Regions from separate parts of the Homo sapiens genome. Here region 2 is linked to region 1. Evidence: fine-mapped expression QTL. A gene starts in region 1. The other region holds a variant in brackets. All regions are shown on one strand. Distances are between the middles of the regions.

The links. PIP is the estimated chance that this variant, and not a neighbour inherited with it, causes the effect.
Region 2: its variant is the best candidate, but not a certain one, in a credible set for the expression of IDH2 in left ventricle (GTEx, PIP 0.53).

The regions. Positions count from the first base shown.
Region 1 is chr15:90,100,023-90,105,391 of GRCh38, forward strand. IDH2 (isocitrate dehydrogenase (NADP(+)) 2) reads right to left here and starts at 2,446. Exons shown (of 11, transcript NM_002168.4): 1 at 2,254-2,446. The coding sequence starts at 2,368. IDH2-DT (IDH2 divergent transcript) reads left to right here and starts at 2,110. Exons shown (of 3, transcript NR_149130.1): 1 at 2,110-2,356; 2 at 3,358-3,430. RefSeq lists enhancers at 872-1,727, 1,728-2,582 and silencers at 1,117-1,166, 1,227-1,316, 1,807-1,876, 2,197-2,656.
Region 2 is chr15:90,123,707-90,129,075 of GRCh38, forward strand. All of the region lies in intron 2 of IDH2-DT (IDH2 divergent transcript), which reads left to right. Among named protein-coding and RNA genes, the nearest start is that of IDH2, 24 kb to the left of the region's middle. The variant C/T (reference allele first, on the strand shown) is at 3,119.

The DNA.
Region 1 (5,369 bases):
ATGTGTTTCCTCCCCTCTCACCCATCTGGTATGCATTGCCACACAGGGGCCAGTGAGTTCTTACCAGCAGCCTGCACCAGATGTACACGGGTGGCATCTCTCTCCAGCAATAGGCCCCATGCCCTGAAGAAGCTTACAACCTACAGTGTACTAATATTTGCAATCTGCTGGTATTTTTAACATGGGTTTACAGAGTATAAACCCCAGGGAAGGCCACAGACCCTGGCTTCCAGTAATCTGAGAGCAGTTTCCAGCACCTCATACCCTGAATGGAACCAGCCCAAGGGCCCTCAACTTCACACAGAAGATGTGGGAGCAGGCCTCAGCCATTCCAAAGAGGCTTTTCCTCAGTACCTACTAGGCCTAAACACAACCACCCCAATCAGCTCTGGCAGGGCAGCTAGGGCCTTATCTGACGTGGCAGAAAGATCTGCACACTTAAGGGGCAAGAATTAAGAAGTTTCTGGGTTAGGAGTGAAGGAAGGCTAGATAAGTAATTCTGCCACTGAGCCGTTCACAGAACTGGTCCGCACTGCCCCAAGCTCTAACTTACCAGAAACATCACCAGCAGTCGCTGGAAGCCTATGGCGTTGCAAAATAGGAAAAGATGCGTGCAGGAATTACCAGGCAGCAAAGACACGGGGCTCTTTTAGCCCCAAAATATTCTTTCCTTGTCATCAAGGGGAATGCCAAGTATTCTGTCTCCAGCTGCGTTGCCAGGTAACAAGCTGGCAGAGTCGCAACTGTAGAGTCTGATGTCCAACTCCAACACCAAGCAATTTCCCCATTCATAACCAACCCACATGGGGACTTCTAGAAGGGCCTGCAACTGACTGCTTTTTCTGTATCCAAATTCAGGACCCTTAAAAGGCGCTTTGTGTTCCTGTTTGTGTGTGTTTTTCGGGTTGTTTGTTTCTTTTTTTTTTTTTTACCATCAAGGCAGAAAAAAAGGGAGAATTAAAGAATGTGGCTAACTTCCACCATATTTTTGCTGAAGGTGGTGTGCTATATGGGAATCTTTGGGTCCTGGGGCACTTGGAACCTGGGAGTTGTTGGGCAGATCCCTGAGGTAGATTCCCAGAGGTACAAAAGCAGACATGCCCCTTTCTCCTTGGCAGGGAAGGTAGGACTGGGGCCCAAGCCTCCCTACCCCCCCGGCTCTAGTCAGCTGCTCCCACAATCCGGTTAACCATTACCTCCTCTGGCCAGGTCAGGGCCAGCGGGCCCCATCCCCTCTTCCTCACTCTCCTGGCTCACTGCAAGGGGCTCCTGGCCAGATTAGGATAGGGGTTTCCATGGCAACAGGCATTAGGCAGGGCCAAGGGACCTACATTGTTCCCTGCCTTTTGTAGCTGTGTTGGGTAGCCAGGGTGAGGGGGCAGGCCGATGCCCACACGCCAAGCAAGGCAGCCTGCGTTGGCAACGGAGGCTCGGGCTAAGTCTTGCTTATTACGACCCGACTACTGTCTTCCCTCCTAAGCAGGGAACTAAGGGTACCCAGAAGCCGTGGGAACGATTCCGCAAAGTGACATTTTGCGCGGGCTGCCAGGTCTCTGCGGCGAGTGAGCCAGGCAGGGAGGGCATGTGCCTGCCAAGGCAGGTCAAGTCAAGGAGAGGCCCCAGGATGGAGCCTCAAGTGCAGCGATGAAGGCGAAGGGGTGGGGGTGGGGGCGGCCAAACAAAAGGGGAAAATTAAAAAGGACGCTCCTCCAGCTGTCGTGTAAAAGGCTCCAAAAATAGCTGACGTGGGCCTGGTATCAGCGCGCGCCTGGCTGAAAAGGAAGGGGAAGTGCATGTCTCCCGCCTCCCAGCCTTTGTCTGAGCAGGGGCCGAGCCACGACCCTCCCTCTCGCCAGGGGAGCGCGCGGGGTGCTCCAGCCCCCCACGGGTGCTCGTCTCGTTCCAGGGGCGCAGGGCGGGCAGGCCACCCTTCGGGTCCGGGACACTCTCAGGACCCCCTCCCGAAATACCTAGGGGCGCGCGGCAGCCCCGAGCCCCCGCCCGCGCAGAGCTGGCCGTCGCCCGGGCCACCAGTTGCCACCGTCCCTCAAGTCCCCACCCCAGCGCCTGGCACGGCCGGGAAGCGCCGGGCGGGGGAGCGCGGAGCGAAGCTGCCCCGCGGCCCTTTGTGCGCCTGACCCCGCCGTCCCCGGGCTGCGGGCTGGCGGGACGTGCTTCCCGGCCCCAGCCTGGGAAGCCGCCACGTCGCAGCTGGGGGCGCGCGCCTGCCTGGACCCTCCGCGCGGCACTCACAGTGGCGCCGCGGCTGCTCTTGCGAGGTGGGGGCTGTCAGGGCCGCCGGCGCCCAGGCCGGCCGCGAGCCTGAGGCTCTGCAGAGCGAGCGCACGACCCGCAGGTAGCCGGCCATCCCAAGCTGGAGAGCGAACGAGCAGGGCGGGAGAGGTCCGAGCGCGCGCCGCTCCTCCCGGCTGCCTGGCCGCGGGCTAACGCTGGGCCTGGCGGGCGCTGGCCGCGCGGGCACCACCGGGGCGGGGCTGCCGGGCCTGCCGCCCCATTGGGCCTTGCCGGGGAGGAGGCGGGGCCAGGGCCGCCGACGCCTCCAGCGTCCCGCGGGAGCCGGGACCCGGCGGCCAGGCCCGGCTGGTGCTTCTCTGGGCGCCGCTGAAAGCCCAGCTCCGCAGGAGCTACAGGCGTGAGACCCACCGGGACCCGCGAGCGGGATCAGGGCTGGGGGATTAGCAGAGCCGCTTGCGAGGCTGACCCTCTCCAGGATGCCCCATGTAAACCTGGATGTCAGTTTCTGACGCTTTAGCTTAAACCCAAAAGCCAATCTGAGCGAACTCTTGCTTCCCTCGCCTGCCGGGCTGAACCCAAAGGCGCATTAGCCCAGTGCGGCTGCTTCATTCTTGAGCTAAGACCGCCGGCGGCGTCTGCGCCTCCGCGAGTCCGCTGTCAGGTCCAGCTGGTGTAGAGAGAGTTGAAATCTCACTTTGGGCCGGGCGCGGTGGCTCACGTCTGTAATCCTAGAACTTTTGGGAGGTCGAGGCAGGCGGATCACTTGAAGTCAGGAGTTCGAGACCAGGCTGGCTAACATAATGAAACCCCTGTCTCTACTAAAAATACAAAAATTGATCGGGCATGGTGGCGCGCGCCTGTAATCCCAGCTACTCAGGAGGCTGAGGCGGGAGAATCACTTGAACCTGAGAGGCAGAGATTGCAGTGAGCTGAGATCATGCCACTGCACTCCAGCCTGGGCAACAGAGTGAGACTCCGTCTCAAAAAAAAAAAAAAAAAACCACGAAAAAAGAAATATGATTGGACCAGAAGGCCAATAACCTGAGTGGGGAAACCCAGCAAGTCCTGTCCGTGTAGATTCTTCTTGACCTTTCTCTGCAGCATTCCTTCCTTCTGAGTACGGGGCAGGACTCTCTCTGGGATGGAGGGGTCTTAGGACCTGCAAGCAAACAAGGTAGGTCAGATAATTTATGGCCAGTTTTTACCCAGAAATGTGTGGGAGAAAGAGTAATATTTTTGGGTTCGATGTCTGGCTTTGGGGGAGAAGGGCTCTGGTTTCTATGACCTGCCTTGAGGAAGAAGGATTCCAGTTTCTATGGCTGGCCTCGGAGGAGAGTGAGGGGCCAAAGACAGGAGGGAGGGAGAGGGTCAGAGAGAGCTGCTCCTGAGGCCTGCATTTTGGGGTGTTGTTTTCTGAGACCCTAGAGTAGTCAAACAGCCACAGTAGAAACAGTTCCATTTTTGCCTGTTTGCATATAAAAGATGGGTTTGTTTGTTTGTTTTAATTAAAAATAGAGATGGGGGGATCTCACTATGTTGCCCAGGCTGGTCTCCAGCTCCTAAGCTTAAATGATCCTCCCGCCTCGGCCTCGCAAAGCACTGGGATTACAGGTGTGAGCCACTGCACCTGGCCACAAAAGACAGTTGTAATTGATTCTGCCACAAACAAAGTTTCTCTCTTCATCTGTTTTCTTAAACTAAGACACCAGCTGAGGGCTGGGTTTTATTTGGAAAAACCTGACCTCTTTCCCTTCTCTGCTTTCCCAGTCACGCTAATTCACTCCAAATAGGAGCAACCTTTCTCTTCTGTGTTCTCAGCCCTCCCCTCCACTACCTCACAGTCAACATTGCCAGGTGGAGCTGGACCAGGAAGGTGACCTTCAACTAGTGACTTCAAAGCTCCCCTCACCAAGTCCTAGCCGGCAGAACTACTACTCTGGCCATGGGATCCAGAAGGCTGAGCCCAAGGGAGGGCTGCTTTTGGGCCCCCCAGAGTCTGAGGCCTCTGTCAAAGGCCTGGTCTTGGGCCAGCTTGTGCCAGAAAGACCCCTTATCCCTTTGACTCTGTTCAGAATTCTGTTGCTCCAAACACAAGTAGAGACCATGGAAGCCTCTGGCATTTGACTTTCCTGCCAACCTGGTATTATCAGGTGCCTGGATCTCAATGTCCACACCTGTAAACTGGAAGACTGGACCCCTGAAGATCCTTCTGGTCCAAACAATCAGACTTACGTATGTCAGCCACCCATACTGCCACCTCTGAAATGGCGGTAATGAAATTGCTGTCCCCCTCCCCCCACCAAGGACTTGCCCCTTTCTCTGCATGTTGGACTCATATCTCAGAGGCCTGGCCAGAGGCAGCACTGTAGGTGTGTTCCAGAGTCTGGTCTTTGCCTGCTGAGGGATCAGAGGGGGAGCACTTGTGTGCCTTGTAAGCACAGCAGCAGCTGGAGGCAATTGAGGCAAAATCTTTAAACGGATTCTAACTACCTGCCTCCCAGGGCCCCAGCTCCACGCCAGCCTTTCCCGTAAATCCTGTTTGGTGAGGCAGCTGATGCCAGCTCCATTTGGCTCGTAGAGGTTACCACACTTGCTCAATGTCACACTGCTGGGAAGCAGTAAAACTCCAGTTCAAATCAACATACCTGGCCCATATTCCATTACTGTTTTTTTGTTTTTTCCGAGACAGGGTCTCACTCTGTTGCCCAGGCTGGAGTGCAATGGTATGATCATGGCTCCCTGAAGCCTCGACCTCCCGGGCTCAAGTGATCCTCCCACCTTAGCCTCCTCAGTAGCTTGGACAACAAGAACATGCAACCATGCCCGGCTAATTTTTTTTCTGTTACTTTTTGAAGGAGAAAGAGGGAGAAACCACAGCCCCTATTTATTGTGCTGGTCTGGAATTCCTGGTGATGGTAACTATTGGCCCTGAAAGCTGCTGCAGAGAAAGATGGTGTTTAAAGGAAAGGGGCTCAGATCCTCCCATCTGGGGTCAGTGGAATTGAAAATTTCCACCCCTCCACATTTTCAATCAAACCCCAATTTGTCATTGAATTTAGGTCACGTGCAAGTTCCCTGTGGAGGCACAAAAATTTGTATCACTCCGTCCCCAC
Region 2 (5,369 bases), 24 kb after region 1:
ACTTTGGGAGGCCAAGGTGGGAGGATTGCTTGAGTTCAGGAATTCAAGACTAGCCTGGGCAATATTGTGAAACCCCCATCTCTTAAAAAAAAAAAACAAAAACCAAAGTGATGTTATGATTTATGAATACAATGTAGAAAAATTAAATCAAGCTAATTAACATATCTGTTACCTCAAATTCTTATAATTTTTGTAGTGAGAACATTTGAGATTTACACTTAGTGACTTTGAAATGTACAGCACATTATTATTTACTATATTCACCATGCTGTGCAATATATCTCAAAGAAAAAAACTTATTCCTCCTGTCTAATTGAGGATTTGTACCCTTTGACTATCATTTCTCCCAAGGTTTTGTTTTGTTTTGTTTTGTTTTTTTACTAGCAGCCTAATAGTCCATTATATTCCTCTCACTGGAGCAGGGGCTCTGGAATCAGTCAGGTTAATATTCTGTCCTCACCTCTTAGGAACTATGTAACTTTTACCTTTTTTTTTGAGACGGAGTTTCACTCTTGTTGCCCAGGCTGGAGTGCAATGGCGCGATCTCGGCTCACCACAACCTCCGCCTCCCAGGTTCAAGCGATTTCCTGCCTCAGCCTCCTGAGTAGCTGGGATTACAGGCATGCACCACCACGCTTGGCTAATTTTGCATTTTTAGGAGAGACAAGGTATCTCCGTGTTGGTCAGGCTGTTCTCTAACTCTTGACCTCAGGTGATCTGCCCGCCTCAGCCTCCCAAAGTGCTGGGATTACAGGCATGAGCCACCGCACGTGGCTGAACTATGTAACTTTTGACAATAATTTTACTCTCTAGGCTTTAGCTCTTATGGGAGATGGCCAGGTCTTGAACTGAGTTAGTTTCATAGTTGGATCTCAACCCCTAATTGATTGAGTTAGAAGCCCTACATCAACTGAAATAGTGGATCATTAACTCTAGAACAGTCTTATTTACTCATAAAAGTCTCCTAAAGACCTAGGATAGGTCACATTTTGAGAGTCCACAGTTTTATCTACTGTGACTAAGAACAATAAAACTACATGAAACAATGCCCTGTGGTGTTTAAAAGCTGTAGTCAGGGTTGGCAGCATGAAGGAGTGGCAATTGAACCACTTAATTAAATTCCCTTATCAGATGATCAGATTATTGTTTATCAGTAGAGCTAGTGATTAAGTGAGGCCTCCAACCTTGTCCTAGCTGGTTGCCTTGGGAGAGTTTCCAGACTTCTCCGTGGCTCACTTTATCATCATCTGTAAAATGGGTAGAGTAACAGCTTAGTACCAACCTCATAGTAATGTGCTGGTTAAAATATACTCAGCTGGCTGGGTGCGGTGGTTCATGCCTGTAATCCCAGCACTTTGGGAGGCCAAGACGGGTAGATCACCTGAAGTCAGTAGTTTAAGACCAGCATGGCCAACATGGTGAAACCCCGTCTCTACTAAAAATACAAAAATTAGCCAAGCGTAGTGATGCACACCTGTAATCCCAGCTATTCGGGAGGCTGAGGCAGAAGAATTGCTTGAACCCAGGAGGTGGAGGTTGCAGTGAGCTGAGATAGCACCATTGCACTCCAGCCTGGGCAACAAGAGCGAAACTCCGTCTCAAAAAATAATAGTAATAAATAAATAGTACTCAGCTGGCTGGGTGTGGTGGCTCATGCCTATAATCCCAGCACTTTGGGAGGCCAAGGAGGGTGGATCACTTGAGCTCGGCAGTTCAAGACCAGCCTGGCCAACATGGTGAAACCTTCTCTACTAAAAATACTAAAATTAGCCTGGCATGGTGCCATGTGCCTGTAATCCCAGCTACTGGGGAGGCTGAGGCAGGAAAATTGCTTGAACTTGGGAGGTGGAGGTTGCAGTGAGCTGAGACTGCACAACTGCACTGCAGTCCAGCCTGGGCGGCAGAATACAATTGTGTCTCAAAAAAAACAAAAAACAAAAAACAAAACTCAACTGAAGATGGACGCAACATGTGATAAGTGATGAATAATGGCCACCATCATTCTCATCTCTGGCTGGGGTAGGACTAGTGAGATCGGGACGTGTAAGGTAGCTCACTCAGATATTGGGTTAGGGAGACCCAAAAAACTGCAGTGGAACTCAGGCGCTGTTCATGTGGGGCAGATGGCTAATACTGAAACTCACAAGAAATGGCTAACAACAAACTTCCTAGAAATCAGTTTGTTTGGGCCAGGTGCAGTGGCTCACGCCTGTAATCCCAGCACTTTGCAAGGCCAGGGTTGGTGGATCACATGAGGTCAGGAGTTCAAGACCAGCCTGGCCAACATGGTGAAACCCCATCTCTATTAAAAAATACAAAAATTAGCCAGGGATGGTGGCACGTGCCTGTAATCCCAGCTACTTGGTAGGCTAAGGCAAGAGAATCACTTGAACCCAGGAGGCGGAGGTTGCACTGAGCCAAAAAGGCTCCACTGCCCTCCAGCCTGGGTGACAGAGCAAGATTCCGTCTCGGGGGAAAAAAAAAGAAAGAAATCAGTTTGTCCAATGAGGTGCTGGCAAATGTTTAACAACCAGCTCCAGTGCGGGGGGTGTGTGTGTGTGTATGTGTGTGTGTGTGTTTGCTAACTTGTAGCATTTGCTGATTTCGGTAGTGTAAATATTTCCACCATGGCCAATTTCAAACTACCAACACAGCATCACTGAACAGAGTTGTATATTTCCATCTATAATATTTCCACCATATAGATGCAACAGACATAAATGTCCTCAAATGCATAGATACTAGTAAAATATAGTAAAATAATTAGAAAGTGATGAGTTTGAGTCTTTTAATATAATCATAAGTTTATATAACTTAATTTTTAATAATGGCTATGTGTAACAACTGGCTTGCAAAATTCTTGAGAATTTAACAGTTGGCTCTCATGAGCCTGTACAAGCTGGCTCCAGACACCACTCCAGCCACCCCATGTCTCCTTTTGGATCTTGTGGAGTATAGCCCAGGACGTGGCAACTGCACAAGAGCTTAGGGCAGCTTCAATATCCTTCTTAGGGACTCCTTCCTCTGGCAATTGTGTCCCCCTCCTGGAGGACACAGCCCCAGAGGTGACCTTTTCCCTTCCAGGCTCCAAGCTGTTTAACATTCTCATCCACCAGCA[C/T]CTCCCCCCACTGCAGGGCGGCTATTTCAGGAATGCCGGGACGTGCACGTAGGGCATCCTGGCCAGCCACTTGCTGGCCAGCCACTTGCCGAATGCACCCTGTCAGGTGCTCACAAGGTCGTCCAGATGGCTAGAAAGAGAGCAGCAGCCTTAGGAAGGGGCTGCCTGCTCCTAGGCTCACAGCCCCTTGATACTTGCATTCTCTAATTAGGAATGCCTTGGCCAACAGACCCTAGAAGTCCACTGCCCTCGTGTATTTCAAAACCTGGATCCAAACTACCATTTCTTAGTTTCATCTCACTTCTGCCCATTGCTTCTCTACCCCTGCAAGTGACAACAGAGACAGTCATAAATAATGTTGGCAACTTCACGCACGGAGTGCTTGCTCTAGAATTATCCTATTTAATCCTCATAACAACCCTATGAAGTAGGTACTATTTTTATCCCAGTTCTGTAGATGAGAAGTCCAAGACTTGGGGTGGTATGTTAACTTGCCCACAGTCATATAGAAGGACTGTCTGGGGAACCCAAGTGTCTTAATCAGTGTTTTTTCTTTTACTTTTTTTTTTTTTTTTTTTGAGATGGAGTTTTGCTCCTGTTGCCCAGGCTGGAGTGCAATGGTGCAATCTTAGCTCACTGCAACCTCCACCTCCCAGATTCAAGTGATTCTCCTGCCTCAGCCTCTCAAGTAGCTGGAATTATAGGCACCCGCTACCATGCCCAACAAATTTTTGTATTTTTATTTTATTTTATTTTATTTTGAGACACAGTCTCGCTCTGTTGCCCAGGCTGGAGTGCAGTGGTGTGATCTTGGCTCCCTGCAAGCTCCTCCTCCCAGGTTCACGCCATTCTCCTGCCTCAGCCTCCCAAGTAGCTGGGACTACAGGTGCCCGCCACCACGCCTGGCTAATTTTTTGTATTTTTAGTAGAGACGGGATTTCACCGCGTTAGCCAGGATGGTCTTGATCTCCTGACCTCATGTTCCGCCCGCCTCGGCCTTTCAAAGTGCTGGGATTACAGGTCAGCCACCGCGCCCGGCCAAATTTTTGTATTTTTAGTAGAGACAGAGTTTCACCATGTTGGCCAGGCTGGTCTCAAACTCCTGACCTCAACCTCAGGTGATCTACCTACCTTGGCATCCCAAAGTGTTGGGATTACAGGCATGAGCCACCGTGCCTGGCCCTTTTTTTTTTTTTTTAGATGGAATTTTCGCTCTTTTGTTGCCCAGGCTGGAGTGCCGCGTCGCGATCTTGACTCACTGCAATCTCCACCTCCCAGGTTCAAGCGGTTCTCCTGCCTCAGCCTGCTAAGTGGCTGGGATTACAGGCACACACCACCACACCCAGCTATTTTTTTTTTTTTTGTATTTTTAGTAGAGATGGGGTTTCACCATGTTGGCCAGGCTGGTCTCAAACTCCTGACCTTGTGATCGGCCCACCTCAGACCCCCAAAGTACTGCGATTACAGGTGGGAGCCACTGCACCCGGCCTATCAGTGTTTTTTCTTTTTCCTTCAACTGTCTTTCTTTACACAGTATCCTTGTTCCACACGTGATTATTTTGCATCTTTGACATGTTGCTTATTACTAAACATTCTCAGCACAGAGGCAGTAGTAGAAGCCATGAGTCTGATAAGTTTGCTGAAGGAGAGAGTGTGCTATGAGGACGGATCGTTGACAAGACCCTGGAGGACACAAGGACCTAAGAGCCCCTAAGAGGAGACAGAGAAGGTGCTGTCCCACAAAGTGCAAGATGTCCCAGGAGAGAGGTGTCCAGGGGATGACTGTGCGGGGGAAGCTCCGAAGTGGACAAGTCAACGAGCACCGGAAGGTGTCCCAGGGATCTGGCAATCAAGAGGCCATCAGTGAGCCAGGCAGGGTCTGTTTCTTCATTTCTTTGCCAGTGGGTGAGGAGGCTGTAGCAGGGAAGGCAGGAGACCCCATAGGTGGGTGGAGGAAAGGCAGGGAGGTCACAAAGTAGGGCCAGCCAGTGTAGACTTCCCTTCCAAGAAGGAGAAAGACGGAGAGAGACACTAGGTGGAAGAAGGGCTTTTGGGATTTGGGTTTTAGTTTTAGCTTTTTGTTTTTGTTTTTGTTTTTTAAAAAACACAGTTTCGGCAGGGCGCGGTGGCTCACGCCTGTAATCCCAGCACTTTGGGACGCCAAGGCGGGGAGATCACAAGGTCAGGAGATCAAGACTACCCCGGCCAACATGGTGAAACCCCATCTCTACTAAAATAAAATAAAATAAAT